7 linked regions of the Homo sapiens genome follow. The protein of the gene in region 1 purifies or fractionates together with the protein of each later gene. This does not show direct contact. Each region holds a gene or a part of one and is shown on either strand. Other genes may lie near its edges. The genes, in order: GALE, ASNS, WDR1, ZC3H7B, GALK2, LRRC47 and ARMC1.

Region 1 (2,656 bases):
CCCATGGGGCCCCCCCAGGCCCCTGCCCCAACTGATTCTGCCCAGATAATCGTGTCTCCTGCCTCCACTCAGCTGCTTCTCAGTCATGAATGTGGCCATGGCCCCGGGGTCCCCTTGCTGCTGTGGGCTCCCTGTCCCTGGGCAGGAGTGCTGGTGAGGAGGTGGAGCCTTTTGAGGGGGGCCTTCCCTCAGCTGTTTCCCCACACTGGGGGGCTGGGCCCTGCCTCCCCGTTACCCTCCTTCCCTGCAGGCCTGGAGCCTGTAGGGCTGGACTGAGGTTCAGGTCTCCCCCCAGCTGTCTCACCCCCACTTTGTCCCCACTCTAGAGCAGGGAGGCAGTGGGGGAGGAGTTGTGTCTCGTCTTCTGTCTCCATGTGGTTTTTGGGTGTTTTTCTTGTTGTGTCCTGGATTCCGATAAAATTAAAGAAATTGCTTCCTCAACGCTCAGGCCTGGCTGATTCTATTCCAGGGGTGGATAGTGACCATCTGTGAGAACCTGCCCCAGTGTAAGAAAACTTGTTTTTATTTTTAAATACTTTGGAAAGCTCTTTCAGAGCAATATAAATGAGTGCCTGGGAGGAGGAGGTTTTGTGCCAGAGCCTTGCCCCCTCACTCACTCTTGGGGGTCCTGATGAACTCTTGGACCCTGTGGAAGATAAGAGTTAGAGACCTCGGCCTCCTGGTCAGTGGAGCCCTTGGCCTCATGCCTGGTGGGCTAAGCGGGCCCAGCTGGGGTTTGAGGTAGGGGAGGCCTTGGCTTGGCCCCAGCAGCTCCAGGGCCCTGAGTTCCTGCCAGAGGCTGGAGAGCAGGCAGCTGCTGCTTTTCCTGGTCCTTGGTAGGGGAGGGTCCTCAGGCTTGCGTGCCAAAGCCTGAAGGATTCTGCTTCTGCCAGCGCCAGAGATCCTCACCTGCAACACGGCGAGGTGTGTGCTCAGGGCCCACGGTGGAATGCAGAGCCTCCCCCACCCCACAGCCCGCCCTGGGTGGGCATGCCCAGATCTGATTTAGCCCCTCCCTGGCCCCTAACTGCAGGGGTCAGGCCAGCACTCACACATCCTGTCCAGCCCTAAGGCTGCTGTCCACCCCAGCTCCTCTTGGGCCAGGCTGGGGTTGGCGTAACAGGCTGCCACATCACCTTCCCGCCGTGCCACCACCTTGTACGGGATCTGCAAGACAGGAGGTAGTTGGAGCTTAGCTGAGCCGGCCCTGGCCCAGCTGCTGGCCAGGTCTTTAAGAAGCAGAAGTGCAGAGCAGCGGCTGGCCCGCAGGCACCGGGTGCTAGGCAGGCTGAGGAGACTGGGCAGTGCCAGGTACCCTCCAGAGAGGTGAGTGGGAAGGGCCAAAGCTGCTCTGTTGCTGAGAGCTGGGTGGGGTGAGGTGGGTGAGGTGGGTGGGGCGGGGGGGCCTACCTTCTTCCCAGAGGCCTTCTCCATAGCCTGGACCATCTGCAGCACTGAATAGCCTGTGCCCGTGCCCAGGTTGTAGATCTGGCCCACGGAGAACAGGGTTTATGGAGCGGGCTGGACTGACCACGCCTCTGGGCCGCTCTGCCTGGATCTGGTCCCTCCCCTCCCTCACTTCTCCCTTCTCTTCCTACCCGGCAGCCACACTGTTCTTTCAGCTTCCTTAAGGCTGCAATGTGGCCCTTGGCCAGATCCACGACATGGATGTAATCCCGGACACCTGCAGAGAAGGGAGTGTGTTGGATGGGGAGTCTGTTCCCCCTGACTCTCCTTCCTGGCTCCCACTCCTAGGTCCCCCTGGTCCTAGGCTCACCTGTGCCATCCTCTGTGTCATAGTCATTGCCAAAGACATTCAGGGCCTCCCGTCGCCCGATCGCCACCTGGAGGTGGAGATCAGGTCAGTTCGTCCCAGATCCCAGGCACCAGCTTTAACCCCAGGGCCACTCCTCTGTCCCTTCCCTTTTGCCTTACCTGGGAGACATAAGGCATGAGGTTGTTGGGTATGCCCTGGGGATCCTCACCAATGCAGCCAGAGGCATGGGCACCTGTGGGGTTGAAATAGCGCAGCAGCACTGCGTTCCAAGTCTGTGGGATGTGGGTCAGGTGGTGAGGCCAGAGGCACAGGCAGCGTGTCCCAGCTGAACCCAGAGCCCTCCTCATGCCTATTCTGTTTTTTTGAGATGGAGTCTCACTATGGCCCAGGCTGGAGTGTAGTGGCCTGATTTGGCTCACTTCAACCTCTGCCTTCCAGGTTCAAGCAATTCTTGTGCCTCAGCCTCCCGAATAGCTGGGACCACAGGCACACACCACCATGGCCGGCTAATGTTTGTATTTTTAGTAGAGATGGGGGTTTTACCATGTTGTCCAGGCTGGTCTTGAACTCCTGACCTCAGGTGATCTGCCCACCTGGGCCTCCCAAAGTGCTGAGATTACAGGTATGAGCCACTGCGCCCGGCCAGTTGTCTATTTATTATCTTTAGAAACAAGCAGGGGATGGGGCCCTCCACTGCAACTGCCTGAGCCTTAGCTTCCTCCTTAGTGGGGGTGTTCGGAATCCCACCCCTGGGCTCAGGGTGGGCCCTGAGGAGTCCATCGATCAGTGGAGCCAGGGCACTGTCAAGGGGGCCCTCACCTTGTCTGCCTGGCACAGGTCCCGGATCATTTCCTCGATGAAGAACTTGGACTTGCCGTA
Region 2 (3,500 bases), on another chromosome or scaffold:
TCTCAGCCCGCTTCAGCTGCAGTATAACTTTTCTACACATGCCCGGATTTCCCCATGCAAGCACGCCCACAAAGGGTAATAGAATGGCACATGTTCAAGCTGGATACGCCATTGGCAGGATCCCCACAGATGGGACTTATGTGCATTATCCATTGTGTATTTTTGCTTATTTTCTGCTCTGTGGTGTTAAGATACTGAAAATGTCAAAAAGACCTGTAGATATTTCTATGAGCAGCAGTGATAAGGAAAAGTAGAAACACTTATAACACAGAAAGTCAAGCTGTAGGAGAAACTGGACTGTAGTATAAAGGTATAGATGACATGGTGAAAATGTGTGATAGAGATATTGAAGGACTAGAGCTACCTGCATTCATAACAGAACAAGAGGTCATGTCAGTTTATAAAATCAAAGAGAGCCTTCCAAGACAAAAGCCATTGTTAATGAAGCAGATGACTCTGGAGAAACATTTAAAAGTCATCTGGCCGAATGCCTCTTCAATCTCAGAGGACCCGCTTCCTAGTTGCTCAGCTGCTTCTGATGTTTCTTCTCACCTGAAAAAGGAAAAAAAAATACAGTGTATAGTAACCTTTTAATCAAAACGCAGCATTGTAGGTGGAGTCTGAAAGCCTGCCATTGTTTGTACAGCTGTTTAACAGCTGATGCAGGTATTCTGGTGATTCTACTATGCTACTTATTACTTTCTTACTGTATTAATGGTATGTCATATTTTATAAGCATATGAAAATGATTGCTCATCAGCAGCATAATAAATTCAGAGTCAGGAATGATGGTCAATGATGTCAAACAGCCACAGATTTTCCACATGGTAGCTGAGATAGTGACCCCTTTGCTTTCTGATGGTTCCATGTATGCAAACTTTGTTTCATGCACAAAATTATTTGAAATATTATATAAAATTACCTTTAGGTTTTGTGTATAAGATATATGAAACATAAATGAAGTTCATGTTTAGACTTGGGTCTCATGCCCAAGATATCTCACATATATGCAAATATTCCAAAGTCCAAAACACAAAACACTTCTGGTTCCAAACATTTCAGATAAGGGATACTCAATCTGTATATATATAAATATATGTATGTATTACATATATGGTATGTATATAATATACATTTCCATCCCTCCACAGGTTACTGTTCTGGCACATTCCCATTATGTTCTGTTTATCAGACTGCAACTAAAATTTTCATGGGTTCGGCTTTATGTTGAACAGAATTTGCAGAATATGAGTTGAAGCGAACCATAGTTTAATAATGCTGTGATTCTCCTAAATCACCAAAGTGCATGAAAGGATTATAGAGCTCAGAAATACTGAAGCATCTTTGCAATAAAAAATTATTAGTGAATGTACAAGGAGTCTAACATTTTGGTTTTGCTTTCGCTTCCTAAGATGCAACAGCATTTTGAATTTGAATACCAGACCAAAGTGGATGGTGAGATAATCCTTCATCTTTATGACAAAGGAGGAATTGAGCAAACAATTTGTATGTTGGATGGTGTGTTTGCATTTGTTTTACTGGATACTGCCAATAAGAAAGTGTTCCTGGGTAGAGATACATATGGAGTCAGACCTTTGTTTAAAGCAATGACAGAAGATGGATTTTTGGCTGTATGTTCAGAAGCTAAAGGTAATAATAAATTTTTCTATAGATTTTCATTATTGTCTTGGTTGTACGTTTTCTTTTAAATTATATTTGAAAATCTCTTAGAGAGCAATCCAGAATTTTACAAGTGACTAAGTTATGAGTCTTTACCTTTTTTTAAAAAAACAGAGGAGTTGTACTCTCCTTTTCAGCACTTAAATTCTGTAATCCTTGAAGGATGATTCTTTAGTGCAGTCGTTTATTTTTTGCTGTGCTAATATGCTCTACATCTAGCTTGATCTTAAGTGCAGTTTTAAGTTTTCCTGTGTCATACTATAATCGTAGGGTTGACTCTGCAATTATTGCATTGTGGTACTTTGCGCAGTTATAGCACAGCAAGTGTTAGGATTTCTAAAACAGCTTTATTGATAATTCACATACCATGTAATTCACCCACTTGAAGTATACAGTTCAGTGGTTTTTAGTATATTCACAGATGTTGGTAAACAACACTCCAATCAGTTTTAGGATTGTTTTTCCACCTCAAAAAAAACCAAATCAAATCCTATGCCCTTTACCTTAGTTTTTGCTGGCAGGATCAACTAGGTTTTTGTTTGTTTGTTTGTTTGAAGAGATGGGGTCTTGCTCAGTCGCCCAGCCCAGGCTGGAGTGCGGTGGTTTGATAGCTCAGTGCAGCCTTGAACTCGTGGGCTCAAGCGATTCTCCCACCTCAGCCTCCCTAGTAGCTAGGAGTATAGGCATGCACCACAACACCCTGCCTCCTGTGCCCTTTAGCTTTGAATTCCATCTCTCCATATCCATCAGCTGCACCCCTGCAGTTGTAGCCCCGGCAATCACCAGTCTTTCTGCCTCTGGATTCCCTATTCTGTATGTTTCATATGAACGGGATTATATATCATACCGGCTTTTGTGACTGGATTCTTTCACTTGGTATAGTGCTTTCAAGATTTGTCTATGCCGTAGCATGTATCAGTACTTACTTCTTATGGCCAAATGATATTCCATTACATGGATACACTGCATTTTGTTTATTCGCTTGTCAGTTGATGGACATTTAGGACATTATTTACCCCTTTTGGCTATTATGAATAATGCTGCTATAAACATTGGTGTACAAGTTTTTGTGTGGACATTTCCCTTGGGTGTATATCTAGGAGTAGAATTGCTGGGACACATGATAACTATGTTCAGTTGAAGAACTGCCAGACTAATTTTTGAAATGGCTGCATCATTTTTTATTCACTCCAGCAGTGTATTAAAATTTCTGTTTCTCCACATCTTCACAAACAGTGTGTGACTTTAATTCTAGCCATTCTAGTGTATGTGAAGTGGTATCTCATTGTGATTTTGATTTGTATTTTCCTGTTGACAGTGATGTCCAGCATCTTATCTTATGCTTATTGGCCATTTGTATATCTTCTTTGGAGAAATATTTGTTCAGATCCTTTGCCATTTTTTTTTCCTGTTAGGGATCATTTTATTTTAAAAACATAATAGACTTTATTTTTTTTTTTGAGCAGTTTTAGAAAAAATTGAGAGGAAAGTGCAGAGAGTTCACATATGCTCCCCCTACAGTGCCCCTGCCCAGTTTTCCCCACTCTTAACATCTTGCATTACTGTGCTACATTTATTAGATTTGATGAACTGATACTTATATATTAACTGAAGTTCATAGTTTACATAAGGGTTCACTCTTTGTGTTTTATAGATTTTTGGATTTGACAAATGTTTAATGCCATGTACCCACCATTACAGTATTATGTAGAACAGTTTCATTGCCCTAAAAATCTCCTGTGCTCCACTTATTCTTTCCTCCCGTCCTCTTCCTCCTAACCCCCCAGTCATTACTGATCTTTTTGCTTTCTCTCTCACTT
Region 3 (3,500 bases), on another chromosome or scaffold:
TGCTGCTCCATCCCACTGCAGCCCAGATCAGCACCGAACATCAGCATCTGCGTGACTCACACAGGTGTGGCATTTGAGAGTTGGGACATGGGGGTTTTGACAACTGGCCCTTGGGGTTTTGGTGGAAGGGTGGGATGCTGGTTGCTTTTTTGGGACATAAGTTTAGCCACGGTGGCAGGCCGGGTGCACTGGCCCCAGACAGTTGGCAGCAGTGGTATTAGGAAGAGCACTCTCAGGGCAGCCCTGCCAACAGAAACGGGACGGCAGACCTGAGGGCTGACACCTGGAGAACACTGTCGGGGATGGCTCATGGGAAACTGTTTTTCTGGGCAGTAGCGAAGCCTTACTCACCCGTGTACAATTTCTCACCATCCCACTTGGAGGCCCACTGGAGCATGGTCTCGACAAGAGCCCTCAGCTCCCCCAGGCAACAACCTCCTCGGCCCCATGCTGTGCGTGCCTTCCTTTTTATACTCATCACCCTGGGCTGTGAGCCCAGCAAGGAGGCGCTCCCGATTCCCCTCTATCCTCGAGGCCACGTCTAGTGAACCTTTATGGTTCAGCCTTCCCCCTCTCAGCAGTGCTGCTGCCCCCACTGCCCCGGCACAAAGGAACCGTGACTCTATGCATGAGCGTTGAGGTGACCTGGTCCGTAGGAGTCACACACACAACGTTAACGAGGCCCCTTCCTCGTGGGCAAACTCCCATGTAGAATGGATTTGGTGATTCTAGCAGCCCCTCCTAGAAGCCGTGGTGTGAAGGAGCCACTGACAGCACAGCACGGGCCGAGTGCACAGGCCCGGGGGCTGCTCCAGGCTGGCCCACACTAGCCCTGCAGGGTTCAGACCCTCTGCAGAGGCTGGTCCCCCAGAGCTCCACGGCAGCAGGATGCAATGGGTGAGGGAAGTGCTAGGGTTTGTCTCCCCGAGTGGCTTAAAGCAGGAGCCCGAGAAGGGCTGCTGGGATGAAGTGCATTGTCCACCTGCCTTGATATTACAGCTTAGAATAGCAGGAGGGGTCACCCACCCTGGGCCACCAGCGCTGGGGGAACCTGACTTGGAGTTCCCAGCAGATGCAGTGTGGGAAGCAGGCGAGGGCGCTGCTGTGAGAGGAGGACCTGAGGATACAGAAGGGACCCCTGCTCTGGCTCCTGTCCAGCTGCGAGATTCCCAGAGGCGTCAACTTGGCTGGTGTGGGTGGAGGGAGAAGGCAGGACCCCCCCAGCCAATGGAACACAGGGAGCCTTTGGCTCAAGTGAACCCTTCCGGGTTAGGGTTCAGAAGCAGGCACCTTGCTCCTCCCCAGGTTGGCATTTGGGGCCTTCACACCTGGGACCCATGGATGATTCTAACTCCGTTTCCTCCTGCTCCCATCGCTCCCTTATGGAACTCCAGTATCTCCTTCACACCCTGCCCACCACATTCAAACTCCAGGCAGCGCCAAGGCCCAGGCCCAAGGCCACCTGCTCTTGCTCCTCCCTCCTGCCCCTGGACCTCAGCGATGCCCCGTCACCTGCCCTGGTGCTCAGTGAGCTTCTGCTCTTGCCTGCAGTCGGGTAAAGCACAGGCTGTGCACTCCCAATTCAGGGAAGGCAGAGCCCTGCAGGAAGTAACCGCTCTCAACAGCTGGGGGTGATGGCCACTGCCCCGAATCACTAGGCCCTGACTCTCCAGTTCTCACAGTAGCTCAAGGGGAACTTGGCACCTGGCCTGCCACCATGGCTAAACTCATGTCCCAAGAAAGCAACCAGCATCCCAGCCTTCCACCAAAACCCCAAGGGCCAAGGAGGCCTGAGGACACCTCTCTAGCTTCCACCTGGCTTCCCCTCGGTTCCCCTTCCTTGCTGGCCACTCTGGTCTCTTCCCTGTCCACCCAGCGGGCAGAGCCTTCCCCAGGGCAGGCCTTACCTTGATGACGTGCAGGGGCTTGCTGGGGTTGTTTCTGTCCAGATAGTTGATGTACCCGGACAGGGAGACACTGAGCAGGTGGTCCTTCTGCCATAGGCAGCCCAGCTGCTGGTCCAGAACCGTGGAGCCCATGGGAAATGTGCTGACCACGGAGTTCACGCTGACGTCCCAAATCTTGGAAGTTTTGTCCCCAGAAGCAGAAAGCAAATGGGTGCTGTCGGGACTCCAACTAATCTATTCAGAAAAAAGCAGTGTGTCATGTGCCAGAGGACTACAGACTGGAGAGAGACCCCAAAAAGCAGCTTGTCCACTGCGACTGTTTGAGTAGGACAGAAGGAGCCCAGAGAGAGGGTGGGACATGAGTGAGGCCAAGGACAACACCCGCCTCCAGGTCTCCCGTTCCAGCCACTACCTTCTCCCATCACCTTATTGCGACCTTAAAGCTTTTCTGGGCAGATATAAAACCGCCCCGACTTATAGCCCCTCATTTCAAGTTTTTGTCTAACTCCGGAGTGAGTGTGGATGGACTGACACGTGGACTCGGCCAAATTCCCACCACTAGGCCGGGAAACACGCTCATACTCACTGCGTAAATCCCACCGTCGTGGGCCTTGCTTCCGCCCAGCGCGCACACCTTCTCCCCAGTCTTCCCGTCATAGATGTATATCTTCCAAGAAATAAAAACATGTGGGTCATGTGTGTGTGAACACCCTCTGGAGTAAGCAGTTTCTCCATGGACTGTGGCTGTAGAAAACCGGGGCTCACAGACTAAGCTCCCAGTGTGGTTTAAAAGCAGACATGCATTTACTGGGCTCTGACGACGAGTCTGCAGATGTGGGGAGGGCGATGTCTAAGTTCTGCATGTCAGGACTAGCATTAGGCAGCCTGCGGCTCTGAGCAGTCACGGGAGCAGGCAGACAAGCCATTCCCCACCCCAAAACCCATCCCAGTTCTTACCTGGCCGTCAGCACTGGCTGTGGCAAATCTGTTCCCATCAGGAGAGAATCGCACACAGTTGACAAAGCGGCTGTGGTCCTGCAGGAAAACAATTACCTGCCTGATGAGGGGCCGCAGGCCTGACTCTAGGTTCAAGAATGCTCTCTATGAAACACAGCTTGCAGCTCCAGCTGTTCATCAGTGTGAACTGTTAGTCCACTGGAAAATTTCAGAGCTTAAAAAAACATCCTGGGCAGTCCCTTAGTGGAGGGGCAGGAGTCTGCTCCAGCCTGCCTGCCATGCTGACCGCTCTACCTGCTGGGAAAGCTGATTAGCCCGAGCGAAGGCAGACCACCTCCAGTTATGCCCCCCCCAGTGAGGTGCCCCCAGCAGCTGCCCTCTTCCCTCTGGGCTCTGAAAGAGCTCAAGCCCCAATCCTTAAGCTTCACGATGGCTGAGACCAGGAGGCCTCTTCCTGGAGGCACCAGCCCTGTCTGGCTCTGTTGCCCAGGCTGGAGTGCAGTGGCACAATCTCTGCTCACTACAAGCTCCGCCTCCCGGGTTCACGCCATTCTCCTGCCTCAGCCTCCCGAGTAGCTGGGACGACAGGTGCCCGCCACCACGCCTGGCTAATTTCTGTATTTTTAGTAGAGATGG
Region 4 (3,500 bases), on another chromosome or scaffold:
GCAGGAAATGTGGGGCAGGAGGCAGAAGGAAGGCGTGTGGGACCAGGCTGCCCAGACTGTGTCCTGGCCAGGGTTCAAGAGTGAGGCTGCCCCCGGCGGCTCCCCGGCAATGACCACTCCCTGCCAACAGCAGCCATGGCCTGTCCCCACATCCTGCCCCCGTGGACACGGGAGGTACCTCCTAGGGAGGCGGAGGCCCCTGGACCCACTGCCTGAGGTCATTTATACCCGGAGAGAGTGAATCCAAACCTCTCATAATGGATAAACTGAGACAGGTTGGTTCAGCCCCGATCCTACCTGATCTGCCACGCCAGCCGCAGTGCCGTTACTGAGCAGAGAAAAGGTTTCCAATTCCTGCCAGAGATTGGAGAGAGGTGGGCAGAGGTAAAGATTCTGAAAAGATGCTCAAGGTCCCCTTAGCTGGGGCAGCAAAGAGGCCCTGACACAAGCAGCTGGGGTCTGCAGCGCCCCCGAGAGTCCCTGTCCCCAGGCCTGCCGGAAATCAACTGCTCTGTCTCTCTGGGTCAGATTCTGGGGTTTTCTTCTTCCAACCTTGACCTGGGCAGAGGACCTCCCTGCACACCTCTACTGTGTGTCAGGCACCATGCTAGGCACCATCTCAAACATTCTATTTTTTTATTTGTTAATTTTTAAATTTTTTCTGAGACAGAGTCTCACTTTGTCCCCTAGGCTGGATGCAATCTCGGCTCTCTGCAGCCTTGACCTCTGGGGTTCATGTGATCCTCCCACCTCAGCCTCCCAAGTAGCTGAGACTACAGGCATGCACCACCACACCAGGCTAATTTTTGTACTTTTTGTAGAGATACGGTTTCGCCATGTTGCCCAGGCTGGTCTTGAACTCCTGAGCTCAAGCAACCTGCCCACCTCGGCCTCCCAAAGTACTACGATTATAGGCATGAACCACTGCACCCGGCCCATTTGCTCTCTCTTTTTTTTTTTTTTTTTTTTTGAGGCAGAGTCTCGCTCTGTTGCCCAGGCTGGAGTGCAGTGGCACGATCTCTGCTCACTGCAAGTCCCGCCTCCTGGGTTCACACCATTCTCCTGCCTCAGCCTTCAGAGTAGCTGGGACTACAGGCGCTCGCTACCACCCCCGCTAATTTTTTCGTATTTTTAGTAGAGACAGGCTTTCACTGCGTTAGCCAGGATGGTCTGGTCTCGATCTCCTGACCTCGTGATCCTCCCACCGCGGCCTCCCAAAGTGCTGGGATTACAGGCATGAGCCACCGCGCCCGGCCTTTTATTTATTTATTTTTTTTGAGACAGAGTTTCGCTCGTTGCCCAGGCTGGAGTGCAATGGTGCGATCTTGGCTCACCGCAACCTCCGCCTCCCGGGTTCAAGTGATTCTCAGCTGGGCGCGGTGGCTCACGCTTGTAATCCCAGCACTTTGGGAGGCTGAGGCGGGCGGATCACGAGGTCAGGAGATCGAGACCACGGTGAAACCCCATCTCTACTAAAAATATAAAAAATTAGCCGGGCGTGGTGGCGGGCGCCTGTAATCCCAGCTACTCGGAGAGGCCGAGGCAGAAGAATGGCGTGAACCCGGGAGGCGGAGCTTGCAGTGAGCTGAGATCGCGCCACTGCACTCCAGCACTACAGCCTGGGTGACAGAGCGAGAGTCCGTCTCAAAAAAAAAAAAAAAAAAAAGTGATTCTCCTGCCTCAGCCTCCCGAGTAGCTGGGATTACAGGCATGTGCCACCACCCCAAGCTAATTTTTGTATTTTTAGTAGAGATGGGGTTTCTACATGTTGATCAGGCTGGTCTCAAACTCCTGACCTCAGGTGATCTGCCCGCCTTGGCCTCCCAACGTGCTGGGATTACAGGCATGAGGCACTGCGTCCAGCCCATCCATTCTCTCTTTTTAATCCTCCCATGAGCCCTCTGGGGTGGGCATAAATTATCTCCATCGTCCAGATGAGGAAACCAAGGTGGAAAGAGATGAACTAACTTGCTCAAGGTCACAGCAGAGACTCGAGTCACGAGTTTCCCTTGTGCAGCCTCCTGGCCCTCGGCAGGTACCAAATGAATCTATGTGGAACTGAACCAGCCAAACAGATACCAACACTTCAAATTTGCACCATATGGGTGTTGAGAACATAATGCTGAAGGACGCCAGTGTCAACTCAGGCCACCTCCAGGTGACTAAAGTCAGCCAGCACAGGGGAGGGAGTGGTTTTCAACAGTTGGAGTCTAAAGTGAGCTAGAAGCGGTGGCTGCTCTCTCCTTTTCCGAAAGGTTCCAGGGCTTTCAGCCAACAGACAAGGAAGATCACCTGCTGTCACTCCCCTCTGTCCTAACCCAGCCCTGGCCACCCTCACCCACCTTCCCCACGGAGCCTGGTCCCTCCCTTCAGACCTCCTCACGTCCACACCGACCCTCCCAGGGTCCCGAACCCACCTACCTGGGGCCTCTTATACGCCTTGCGAACTCGCAGCCCCAGTTTCTGGGCCAGCTCCTGACCAAGCTGAGTCACGCTTTCATCCTGCAGAGGACAAGACACAGGGCGGTGGGTCAGTCTGCCCGGGCTCACAAAGCTGTGCTCCTGGACACCTGTGCAGCCCTACGGAGGGAGGTCATAGTCACCCCATGTTATAGATGAGAAAGTGAGGCCCCAGGAGGTGTCCCTGGCTTGTCCAAGTCACACAGCTAGTGAGTGGTGGCACCAGGACCACCATCCCATGCTTCTGTTTTTCCTTTTATTTGGGGATGGAAAATGAATCATTTTGTTTTTATTTTAATATAATCTTTTTATTTCTAAAATTCAGCAAAAGTGACAATGTCACTGTAGAAGGGAAGAATGTTACAGGGACAGCAAGTGCTCCCTGGATCTCCCCCTTCACCCTAGGCTTCTCCAGGAGGGAATCACACTCTGCTGGGCTGATGTGTTTCCTTAGGGCTCTTTTCTAGGAATGCATGCATGCAGACCTATAAAGAATGCTTACTTCTGGCTGGGCACAGTGGCTCATGCCTGTAATCCCAGCACTTTGGGAGGCAGAGGTGGGCGGATCACCTGAGGTCAGGAGTTCAAGACCAGCCTGGCCAACATGGTGAAACCCCATCTCTACCAAAAATAGAAAAATTAGCCGGGCATGGTGGTGGGTGCCTGTAATCCCAGCTACCTGGGAGGCTGAGGCAGGAGAATCGCTTGAACTCAGGAGGCAGTGGTTGCAGTGAGCCAAGACTGCGCCGCTGCACTCCAGCCTGGACGACAGAGCAAGACCCTGTCTCAAAAAAAAAAAAAAAAAAGCTTAGTTTTGTTTTGTGGGGATTTGGGGATTGTCTCTTTCTTTTTGATTTTTTGAGATGGAGTCTTGCTCAGTCACCCAGGGTGGAGTGCAGTGGCGCGATCTCAGCTCACTACAACCTTTGCCTCCTGAGTTCAAGAGATTCTCCTGCCTCAGCCTTCGCGTAGCTGGGATTACAGGCATGTGCCACCATGCCCAGCTAATTTTTTTTTTTTTTTTTTTTTTTTTGTATTTT
Region 5 (3,500 bases), on another chromosome or scaffold:
CATCCCTAATAGTCTCCACAGAGCAAGCAGTTTCTACCATCTTTCTATTTACTCTATCCTTCCCTAGACTGGTATCACTGAAAATCTCATATGGGCAATCATTCATTTTTGCCTCAGCTTCCTTTGTCTCCCAACAGTGAACTACTATTCCACAGTCTACCCATAACCAAAGTGGGGTCATTAAACTTTATTTTCCTGTCCAAAAGTAATGAAGTCTCTCTGGCATTTCCATTAAATGTAAGAATCAGAACTGGTGTCATCTCATCAGGCTCATCTTCCTCCAACCAAGATGTTCTAACCCAAACTGAAAATCTTGAAATATCTGTTTAAGAATCTTTAATGGCTTCCTATTGATTAAGAAATAAATCTAAACGCCTCAACCAGGCATTTCGAAGGCTTCCAAAATCTGGGACCATTATGCATACGAAATTGTATCATTTACCATTCTTATCCAGTTAGATTTGTCTCTTTGACCACTTCACACATGTTTATGCAACTTGGTATTACTTCCTGTCTTCTGTCCTGTATAAATTGTACTTTTGTCCAATATCCAGTTTATTGGCTAGCTACTATAGATAAATCCCTGGGCTGACCACTCAAATCTTTCTTCATGGCCCAGCACTGTGGCTTACGCCTGTAATCCCAGCACTTTGGGAGGCCGAGGTGGGCGGATCACGAGGTCAAGAGATCAAGACCATCCTGGCCAACATGGCGAAACCCCATCTCTACTAAAAATACAAAAATTAGCTGGGCATTGTGGTGCATGCCCGTAGTCACAGCTACTCAGGAGGCTGAGGCAGGAGAGTCTCTTGAACCTGGGCAGCGGAGGTTGCAGTGAGCCGAGGTTGCACCACTGCACTCCAGCCTGGTGACAGAGTAAGACCCCTTCTCAAAAAAAAATAAAAAAATAAAAAATCTTTCTTCATCATGGAGTCTTCTTCGAATATTATTCCCATCATGGTGTCCCCTTTTTCTAAACTCCTAAAACATTTAAGTTAGTATCGTCTAATACTCACACTACTATTCATTCATTCATCTATTCAGTTTAATTTATTGTAAGACTTTATTCGGGCCCTTATTTCTGTTTTACTATATGATGTTTCTAGAATAATTATTCTGAAAAACTGATATAATCATCTCTTGCCTGCTTGGTTGCCAACACCTTAATGCTCATACTCTACAGCATGGTACACAAGGTCTTTAATGACTTAACCCTAGTGCACTTCTCCAGCCTGCTCTCCCACCACTCCTCCTGTAAATCCTAAGCTCCAGCCATGAGGGATACTAAACAAATGCTGTTCTTTACTACCGCAGGCTCTTTCACATCTCATTGTCTTTACAAATATGATTTTCCATTCTCTTCACTCAATACTCCCCACCGCATTCCCAACTAGTCAACAATTCAAGCAGCACCTTGCCGTGGAACCTGCACCACCACCCATATGCATACATACCACATAACTCCTCCTCAGCACTCCCTGTTAATAACTCTATTATCATGTATTGAATATGCTTTAAGTGTGGCTCTACTTGTCTTTTTATCTACATGTCTGTGAATCACAGTGTTATTATTGCTCCTTAATTGTTAATTGTTTCATGTTTCTATCACATCTGTTTCTTGTGAGAGATGAATAAAGTATGGTGTTTCTTTTGTGTCCCCTACTTCACATAATGCCGAACACATAGTAAATATTAATAAACACCTGCTGCTTTCAATTTCTGAGAATAGCTGCCCAAACACCATCTGACAGATTCTGCAAGTGTCATATTCCTTGTTGGTCATGTGGATTCACTAACATTAACTTTTGTCTTGTGACATGAGGTAAACTTAGGATTTTGATGCAATAGGCATTGTTCATAGTCTGCTGACACACAGAGCCAGTGTCCATAATATGTACATTAAAAATAAATTAGTAACCAAAAGATCAAAACACTTGGATTTAAAATGTAGAGAAACAACATACCCAGATGAAGCAGTACATTCATCATTATGTAAGAGATGATGGAACCTGGGTGCCCAACTAACTGTGACCCTGGGCCAGTGTAAAAAGTCCCCTCCCCTCAACAGCAATAACAGCCACATTTACTGAGTCACAGTATGTGGTAAGTATACTAAGTACCTTGCATTATTTCTTTTGTAAGCATTATCTCCTTCAAACCTCCAAACAAAGTTCTGCTTATCCCCATTATAGACATGAGAAAAATGAGGTTTAGAGATATATAACCAGAAGTGGAAGTGCCAGGATTTGAACCTCACCTGACTCCAAAGCCTGTATTCTTTTCTCACTGGACTTCAACCAGTCCCTGCAAAATGGAGATGATGTAATCTATTTTTCACTACCTCAAAGGGATATGAAAAGACAAATGAGATTCACCAAAATTTAAGTATCCTCCCTCTTAAGAGGAAAAAACCAGAACATTGAGAAGTTTGAGAAATTTATGCTTATTAATTATTTTTTCCATGTATTCATATTCTATTAACAATGCTAATAGTTTTAGTAGTTAAGGTTTATTGAGCACTTATTATGTGCTAGGTAGTGTTCTAATTGCTTTGCCTGAATTATTTATTTCTCACACAACCCTACTGATATGGTTTGGCTGTGTCCCCACCCAAAAGCTCATCTTGAATTGTAATCCCCATAATCCCTACGTGTCAAGGGCAGGACCAGGTGGAGGTAATTGGATCACAGGGTTGGTTTCCCTCATGCTGTTCTCATGATAGTGAGTGAGTCTCGGGAGATCTGATGATTTTATAAGTGTCTGGCATTTCCCCTGCCTGCACTCACTCCGCCCTGCCGCCCTGTGAAGAAAGTACCTGCTTCTCCTTTGCCTTCTGCCATGATTGTAAGTTTCCTGAGGCTGCCCCAGCAATGTGGAACTGTGAGTCAATTACATCTCTTTCCTTTAAAAATTACCCAGTATCAAGTATTTCTTCACAGCAGTGTGATAACGGACTAATACACCTATAAAATAGGTCTCTGTGGCTTACAGATTAGGAAACTGAGTGGGTTTATTAGCTGAGACTAGGCTAGTAATTATTAAAGATATAATCCAAACTCAAATGATCTGACTCCAGCACCCATAATCTTAACCACCACCATATATTACCTCCTATCCATAATAAGGAGAAAAATACCCACCTCCCTAGCCACAGGATTATTGTAATGATCCAAGAAACTAAAGTTTAAAACTTCAAATAAAAGCACCTTATAGTGCTCTAAAGTACTACACAGTTGGTGTTATCTTTACATGATGAATAAGGAATCATCTGATTTACATAAAAAAGCAGCCAAGTCCCAAGCCAAATGTAAAGACAAGTTATAATTACTATAGAATACAAGACCATTTTTTAAGTGTTCAGGGAAAGAGAATTTAAAGAATCTGGATTCCTCTAAAACAGCCAATTCAACATTAAGGAGTAATGAAGCCTGAGGCAAACAGGAAAATATATGTCCAATTGTGTTTTATTTTTGTTTTTGTTTTTTTGAGTCAGTGTCTAG
Region 6 (4,215 bases), about 20 Mb from region 1:
GTCTGATCAATGGCTCTACCTGAAACCAAAAAGAGCTCCCCGCAGCCCCAGCCAGAAGTGACTCAGTAAGCAGGACCGTTTCCCACACCCCTATGATTGCACCTCAACCAATCAGCAGCAAGCACCCGTTGCCTAGCCACCCTCCCCTTTCCCCAAACTATCCTTGAAAAACCCCGCCTCCAAATTTTTGGGGAAGCTGATTTAGTAATAAAACTCGGCCGGGCGCGGTGGCTCATGCCTGTAATCTCAGCACCTTGGAGGCCAAGACAGGCAGATCATGAGGTCAGGAGATCGAGACCATCCTGGCTAACACAGTGAAACTCCATCTCTACTAAAAATACGAAAAATTAGCTGGGTGTTGTGGCGGGCGCTTGTAGTCCCAGCTACTCGGGAGGCTGAGGCAGGAGAATGGCGTGAACCCGGGAGGCGGAGCTTGCAGTGAGCCAAGGTTGCACCACTGCACACCAGCCTGGGAGACAGAGCGAGACTCCATCTCAAACAACAATAATAATAACAGTAAAACTCCAGTCTCCACTTTAGCTGGCTCTACATGTGTAAAACTTTCTCTATTGCAACCCTCCTGCCCTGATAAATCAGCTCTATCCGGGTAGTGGATAAAATGAACCCATTGGGCAGTTACATCAGTAACCATGTGTCACTCTACAGTGGGTTTGTTTTTTTTGCCACAGGGTCTCGCTCTGTTCAGGCTGGTATCACAGCTCACTGCAACCTCCACTTCCTGGGCTCAAGTGATCCTCCCACCTCAGCCTCCCGAGTAGCTGGGACTACAGGCACGCGCCACCAGGCCCAGCTAATTTTTGTATTTTTGTAGAGATGGGGTTTCACCATGTTGGCCAGGCTGGTGGTGTGACCTCAAGCGATCTGCCCGCCTCAGCTTCCCAAAGTGCTGGGATTACAGGTGTGAGCCACCGCGCCCGGCCAGGGTTTGTCTATATATCCTTATATAGATATGTTACTTGTAAAATGAGTTGCAATGTCTTGAGGAATTGCTACAGCAAATAAATAGATAAGCTGCTAAAGTGTATACGTATTTTATTAAGAAATGTCCACATAGGCCAGGCGCGGTGGCTCACACCTGTAATCCTAGCACTTTGGAAGGCCGAGACAGGCGGATCACATGAGGTCAGGAGTTCGAGACCAGCCTGACCAACACAGTGAAACCCGTCTCTACTAAAAACACAAAAGTTAGCCGGGCGTGGTGGTGTGCGCCTGTAAGCCCAGCTACTCAGGAGGCTGAGGCAGAAGAACCGCTTGAACCCGGGAGGCGGAGGTTGAAGTGAGCCGAGATCGCGCCACTGCACTCCAGCCTGGGTGACAGGACCAGACTACATCTCAAAAAAAAAAAAAAAAAAAAGAAATGTCTGCATAAATTCAAAGACGAAAAATGGGGGAAGAAATGCAGGACTGCCTTAAGGATGAAACCAAAAGAGAAGATGGAGAGAACATCTGGCTGGGTTTAGGTCGTGGTTCTGCCATGTGGCTTCCCTACTTTCTTTTAGGCAACAGATTCAATGGGCACCTGTTATAGGCCAAGCATTATCGCGGGGCCTGGGGATCCAAGATTAATTAGTAAACAGACGCTGGACAATATAGTCTGGAGAAAAACCCAAGTTACCTGCTGCTTACTTTGGGCAGGCCCTTTGGCTTTCTGTAAAACAGGAATAACCACCCCTACCTTGGAAAGCTGCTATTAGGATGAAGTGAAATATAATCTTCAAGATCACAGCATGTGGCATTATGCAAAATCCAGGGTGCCCCCTTCACCACCAGACTCACTCTCAAGTCACTTCACAAGTACTAGATACAAAAAAGACAGGTCTCTACGCTCGATCTACAGGAGAAGCCAGGTTTGCTAACAATTACAAAATAGCGTACCACGTGTAAAAGTCCAGTTAACAGAATGCGGGGGAGTTCAGAGGCCACCTAGTATGTTGGTGTGGCCAGGAGAAGGGGGAGTTGGAAGGCGGCATCTGCTTCCCAGGGGTGATGCCCCCCGCAGCTGGCTCCTTTCAGCCTTGTAGGAATTCCCTGGGCCCAGTGCCCCAGGGGGCGTCACTAGGAACTGCTCGGCCCCGAGAGGGGTTCCTTCTCCAGGGCTACTCCAAGGCCCCATCCCGCCCCGCCCGGGCAGCCCCCGCTGACCTTGAGCGAGGCCAGGTGGGCGATGTCGGGGCTGAGTTCTCGGAGGCAGTTGTCAGCAGCCGCCAGTTCACTGAGCAGGGGCAGCGCGCCGGGGCGAAAGAGCTCGGCGGGAAAGGAGTCTAGGCAATTGCCGGTGAGGTTGAGGCTCTGCAGGCGCGGGGCGCAGCGCGCCAGGTCGGCTGGCAGCTCGCGCAGCCGGTTGCCGCTGAGGTTGAGGCTCTGCAGCTGCGGAAGGCCCGGCGGCTCGGCGGGGCCCAGGCCTTGGCCCGGCGGCAGCGCCTCCAGCGCGTTGCCCGACAGGTCGAGCACCCGAAGGGCAGGCAGCGGCCCGAGCTCGGGGCTCAGGCCGGGCCCCAGCGCGTTGCGCCGCAGCACGAGGCTGTGCAGCTGCGGCAGGCCCTGCGCCAGGCCAGGCCCCGGCGCGCGCAAGCTCCCGCAGCCGCTCACTTCCAAGTAGTGCAGCAGCGGCAGGGTGAAAAGCCGCGGCGGCAGCTGCCCACCCGCCGCCCGCACTCGCTCCTCCAGCCCGGGCCCCGTCAGCAGCAGCTCCCGCCGCCGCTCGCGCTCAGCCAGCTCCAGCTCCGGCCAAGACTCTGACACCGCTGCCGCCGCCATGGCGCCTCAGCTGCTGGCAGGCACCCACCCACCAGGGTGCTTCCGGGGCAGCGCGCGCCACTTCCGACCTGTGCCGGAAAAGCCCATAGAGAAGCCACCTGGCTGCTAGAGTGCCGCCGCGCGTGCCATAGAGGAGAGTGGCCTCTCCTGCGTAGAGCCGGGGAGGGGCTGGAGAGCGGCTCGCTCTCTCCGCGGGTAGGGGTGAGGGTGGGGGTTATGAACCCAAAAATATCTGAGACAGGACTCAATGAAATGTAAAAAGTTTATTTTGCCAAGGTTAAGGACACGCCAGTGTCACAACCCTAGGAGATCGTGACGATGGTGCCCAGGGAAGTTGGGATGCAGCTTGGTTTTGTACATTTTGGGGAGACGTGAGACATCAATCAACACGTGCGAGTGTACCTTGGTTCAGCCCAGAAAGGCTGGACAATTCCAGGAGAGGGCTTTCAGGTCACAGGTAGAGAAGAGACCGGAGGGTGCATTCTTTTGAGTCTTTGTTCAGCCTTTCGCTGACTGCACAATTTATTATGCATGTGAGACGCGGGTAGAGGAATAGTCGCTTATGCTTTAGTCTGGCTTACTGAATCTTCATTTCTACGTAAACAGTAGAGCAAAGGAAGCGATCAGATATGCATTTGTCTAGGTGAGCAGAGGGATGGCTTTGAGTTCAGTCCTTTGTCTCGCACCTGTGAAGGGAAGCTATCAATTTGCATTGCCAGGGTGAAATTCAACAGAACTGTTTTAGGGTAAAGATCTTGAGGCCCACAGAGAATTTCTTTGTGGGCAAATTGTGAGGGAGGTGTGTAGCTTTAAAAATATGTATTTGTAACTATCTTATTTAGGAATAAGACGGGAGGCCGATTTGCCCGAAGCAGTTCCCAGCTTGACTTTTTCCTTTGACTTAGTGATTGTGGGGTTTTGAGATTTATTTTCCTTTCACAGGGTGGGGTGCGGGCGGATGGAGGAGCCAGAGTCTGTGCTCTACTGTGCCCCGACCGGCTTGTTTTGGAATTCCTGCACTTTTGAGTGGTGTAAACCAAAACCAAAATTCTTTTTTTTTTCTTGAGACGGAGTCTCGCTCTGTCACCCAGGCTGGAGTGCAGTGATGCTATCTTGGTTCACTGCAACCTCCGCCTCCTGGGTTCAAGCAATTCTCCTGCCTCAGCCTCCCGCTGGAACTACAGGTGCATGCCACCGTGGCCGGTTAATTTTTATATTAACCGTGTTAATATAATTTTTATATTAACCGGTTTTCGCCATGTTGGCCAGGCTGGTCTCGAACACCTGACCTCAGGTGATCTGCTCGCCTCAGCCCCCCAAAGTGCTGGGCTCACAGGCACAAGCCACCGCACCCAGCCCCCAAATTCTTATTTATTTATTTATTTATTTATTGAGACAGAGTCTTGCTCTGTTACCCAGGCTGGAGTGCAGTGGTTC
Region 7 (3,500 bases), on another chromosome or scaffold:
GAAATGTAAAAATGAAGGTAAATATAAAAGACCTTTTTTTGCTAGGCATGGTGGCTCACGCCTATAATCTCAGTACCTTGGGAAGCTGAGGGGGGCAGATCACCTGAACTCAGGAGTTCAAGACCAGCCTGGCCAACATGGCGAAACCCTGTCTCTACTAAAAATACAAAAATTAGCCAGGCATGCTGACATGCACCTGTAATCTCAGCTGCTAGGGAGGCTGAGGCAGAAGAATCATTTGAACCCGGGAGGCAGAGGTTGCAGTGAGCTGAGATTGCGCCACTGCACTCCAGCCTAGGTGACAGAGCAAGACTCCATCTCAAAAAAAAAAAAAGACATTTTTAAATTTTTAATCTCTTTAAAAGATAATTGACTGTTTAAGGCAAAAATATATACACTGTAGGTTTTTAAACATATGTAGAAGTAAAATGTATGACAAAAATAGCACAAAAGATGGGAGAAAGAAATGGAAATATACTCTTGTGTGATTCTTACACTACATGTTAAGGGTATGATTCATTTAAAGGTAGGCTGTAAGAAGTTAAAGATGCATATTGTAAAACCTACAGCAACCACTAAATAAATTAAAATAAAAACAAAAGTGTATACTAATAAGCTAACAGTGACGAAAAAAGGAAATCATAAAAACAACACACCCAATGGCCAGGCATGGTGGCTCACACCTGTAATTTCAGCACTTTGAGAGGCCAAGACAGGCAGATCACCTGAGGTCATGAGTTCGAGACTAGCCTGGCCAACATGGTGAAAAACCGTCTCTACTAAAAATACAAAAATTAGCCACATGTGATGGTGCGGGCCTGTAATTCTAGCTACTCAGAAGGCTGAGGCAGGAGAATCGCTTGAACCCAGGAGGCGGAGGTTGCAGTGAGCCAAGATTGTGCCATTGCTCTCCAGCCTGGGTGGCAAGAGCAAAAACTCTGTCTCAAAAACAACAACAAAAAAATCTTTTCTTCAGCCTCTTGGGAACTTTCACTCACTGATCCCTCTCCTTAGCTCTGTCCCTCCATGACTTTATACTTCCCTTCCTATTCAGCCTAGTATCTACTGTATATCATTTCAACCAATCCTGCCAAGATCCTAAACTCCCTTGCACAATCATTCTGCCCAACTTAACCTGGCCAAGTAACAACTCTAGACAAATCCAAGTACTTGGCTCTGTGAGCCTACAACAGGCCTGAATCATATCGATTCAGTATTACCAAACTAATCAGCCCTCAACACTGCTGAACAACTTTATCATTCTCCTCAGTTAGCAAATCTTTCCTATTTTCTGCAATTATGAGAGCCTTCCCCTCAAACCTCTCCCATTCTAGTAGCCCTTGCCCTCTGAACTTAGACATATTCTAGTCTATTTAAAAATAAAAAAGACTTACTTCCTTTAGCCCCAAGTCCCTATCTATAGATCAACCCCCTCTTTCTTCTCATCCTTCTTGCATTTCTTATTGAAATTGAACCCAGACTGGGGACTGTGCCATTTTTCCCATTTGTTACTACTGTTCTCTTACACCAATGTCTTTTTTGACTGCTAAACTTCATTCTGTAAAGGCAAAATAGAAATTTTTTTCCAAAAGGAAAAGTCTATATGCCTTCTGTACAAACTTGTGAAATTAGACTAAATGGGGAATCATCACGAGTCCTTAAGTAAAGGGCAATAGATAAAATTTCCAAAACATTAATTTTTTTAACAACTTTTTTTTTTTTTTTTTTGAGACGGAGTTTCACTCTTGTTGCCCAGGCTCGAGTGCAATGGCACAATCTTGGCTCACTGCAACCTCTGCCTCCTGGGTTCAAGGGATTCTCCTGCCTCAGCCTCCTGAGTAGCTGGGATTTCAGGCACCCACCACCACGCCCGGCTAATTGTTTTGTATTTTTAGTACAGACAGGGTTTCACTACGTTGGCCAAGCTGGTGTCAAACTCCTGACCTCAGGTGATCCACCCACCTCGGCCTCCCAAAGTGCTAGGATTACAGGAGTGAGCCACCACGTCTGGCCCTATTTATATGCAAAATATATAGGCATTTTTGCCAGAATAGGCAAATATAGACATACAAAAAGTAGATTAGTAGTTGCTTAGGGACAGGGAGTGTTGGGGTCTGGGAAGCAATAGATAAAAAGTTGTGGTGGGCCGGGCACAGTGGCTCACATCTGTAATCTAAGCACTTTGAGAGCTCGAGGTAGAAGAATCACTTGAGGCCAGGAGTTTGAGACCAGCCTAGTTAACATAGCTACATCCTATCTCTACTAAAAAAAAAAAAAAAAATTTATTTATAATAAATAAAAATAAAAAGTTGTGGTGATGGTGACACACAACTCTGTGAATATACTAAAATCACTTAATTGTATACTTTAAATGAGTGAATTATATGATGCTGTGTGCTTACATCTTAAAAAGCTGTTATAAAATAAAAACAAAATAAGTGCCTCTTTGAGTGTCTCTGTGTATGATATGATCCAATCCTCAAGATTGTTAAATGAAAAGGAAGTGGTAGGACATTCCATGCATGGAGTATGCAACAATTTGTATAAAAGAATAAAAACAAGGCTGGCCATGGTGACTCACAGCTGTAATTCCAACACTTTGGGAGGCCAAAGTGGAAGGATCACTTGAGCTCAGGAGTTTGAGCCTGGCCAACATGGCGAAACCCTATCTCTACAAAATATCAAAAATTTGGCTGGCATGGTGGTGTGTGCCTATCATCCCAGCTACTTGGGAGGCTGAGGTCGGGGGGATGGTTTAAGCCCAGGAGGTGGAGATTGCAGTGAACTAAGATCCTGCCACAGTGTACTCCAGGCCTAGATGACTCAAAAAAAAAAAAATAAAGAATAAAAACAATGTAGCATGTTACCACTGGTGTAAACAGACCACAGACCACACATACATATGTTTGTACCTACATAAATACAAACAACTAATTGCTCTCTTTCCGTTTTTTTACCTTGTCATCTAGCACTTTTTCCAAATTCTCACCTTAACTGCAAAAATAGAACAGAGATTGAAATTACTAAAGGCAACTTACAAGCAAAGCGGAGTGGACGACTGGAGGGTTGGGATGGTCCATAAATAAAATAAGGCCAGGCAGACATCCCTGATCCTGGACGATGGCTCTTCTGTTTAACGGATCTGCTGCTAGATCCCGTAACTGGTTAACTACCGATAGAGCGTCAGGCTCTTCACTCATGGTGGAAGTGGAAGAATTCATCTTCTATGCCATGCACATGAATAAAATCTTAAATTCTGTAGAAAAGGTTTGCAGAATTAGTTCTAGGCTGCTGAGGTATATTATAGCACTTGTGAAATAACCAGGATTACAACACCTTTAGAAAGAATCAGGTAACTAAAACTAAATCACATAAAAACTTAGAAATCGGCAACTCTACAGTTTGAGAAAAGTAAAATGAACGTAAGACGACTGAAAAAATTTGTGTGCACAATGTTTAAAGAACATATGTTGTCCTCAATATTCCAATAAATTATGTTT

What was found.
Region 2: the proteins of GALE (region 1) and ASNS fractionate together in Homo sapiens (co-fractionation; one large-scale study listed by BioGRID). This does not show direct contact.
Region 3: the proteins of GALE (region 1) and WDR1 fractionate together in Homo sapiens (co-fractionation; one large-scale study listed by BioGRID). This does not show direct contact.
Region 4: the proteins of GALE (region 1) and ZC3H7B fractionate together in Homo sapiens (co-fractionation; one large-scale study listed by BioGRID). This does not show direct contact.
Region 5: the proteins of GALE (region 1) and GALK2 fractionate together in Homo sapiens (co-fractionation; one large-scale study listed by BioGRID). This does not show direct contact.
Region 6: the proteins of GALE (region 1) and LRRC47 fractionate together in Homo sapiens (co-fractionation; one large-scale study listed by BioGRID). This does not show direct contact.
Region 7: the proteins of GALE (region 1) and ARMC1 fractionate together in Homo sapiens (co-fractionation; one large-scale study listed by BioGRID). This does not show direct contact.

The regions. Positions count from the first base shown.
Region 1 is NC_000001.11:23,795,099-23,797,754, forward strand, and holds the end of GALE (UDP-glucose 4-epimerase), read right to left. Parts: coding exon 2,597-2,656; intron 2,050-2,596; coding exon 1,936-2,049; intron 1,845-1,935; coding exon 1,778-1,844; intron 1,685-1,777; coding exon 1,599-1,684; intron 1,489-1,598; coding exon 1,411-1,488; intron 1,168-1,410; coding exon 1,053-1,167; intron 910-1,052; coding exon 851-909; 3' UTR 501-850; downstream 1-500. UniProt on the Homo sapiens protein: Catalyzes two distinct but analogous reactions: the reversible epimerization of UDP-glucose to UDP-galactose and the reversible epimerization of UDP-N-acetylglucosamine to UDP-N-acetylgalactosamine.
Region 2 is NC_000007.14:97,862,409-97,865,908, reverse strand, and holds part of ASNS (asparagine synthetase [glutamine-hydrolyzing]), read left to right. Parts: intron 1-1,412; coding exon 1,413-1,650; intron 1,651-3,500.
Region 3 is NC_000004.12:10,085,800-10,089,299, forward strand, and holds part of WDR1 (WD repeat-containing protein 1), read right to left. Parts: intron 2,943-3,500; coding exon 2,865-2,942; intron 2,734-2,864; coding exon of another isoform or gene 2,575-2,733; coding exon 2,494-2,574; intron 2,142-2,493; coding exon 1,908-2,141; intron 1-1,907.
Region 4 is NC_000022.11:41,329,025-41,332,524, reverse strand, and holds part of ZC3H7B (zinc finger CCCH domain-containing protein 7B), read right to left. Parts: intron 2,503-3,500; coding exon 2,422-2,502; intron 355-2,421; coding exon 298-354; intron 1-297. UniProt on the Homo sapiens protein: May be a specific regulator of miRNA biogenesis. Binds to microRNAs MIR7-1, MIR16-2 and MIR29A hairpins recognizing the 'ATA(A/T)' motif in the apical loop.
Region 5 is NC_000015.10:49,278,247-49,281,746, reverse strand, and holds part of GALK2 (N-acetylgalactosamine kinase), read right to left. Parts: intron 1-3,500. UniProt on the Homo sapiens protein: Acts on GalNAc. Also acts as a galactokinase when galactose is present at high concentrations. May be involved in a salvage pathway for the reutilization of free GalNAc derived from the degradation of complex carbohydrates.
Region 6 is NC_000001.11:3,793,699-3,797,913, forward strand, and holds the start of LRRC47 (leucine-rich repeat-containing protein 47), read right to left. Parts: upstream 2,801-4,215; 5' UTR 2,779-2,800; coding exon 2,164-2,778; intron 1-2,163.
Region 7 is NC_000008.11:65,624,178-65,627,677, forward strand, and holds part of ARMC1 (armadillo repeat-containing protein 1), read right to left. Parts: intron 3,257-3,500; 5' UTR 3,222-3,256; coding exon 3,039-3,221; intron 1-3,038.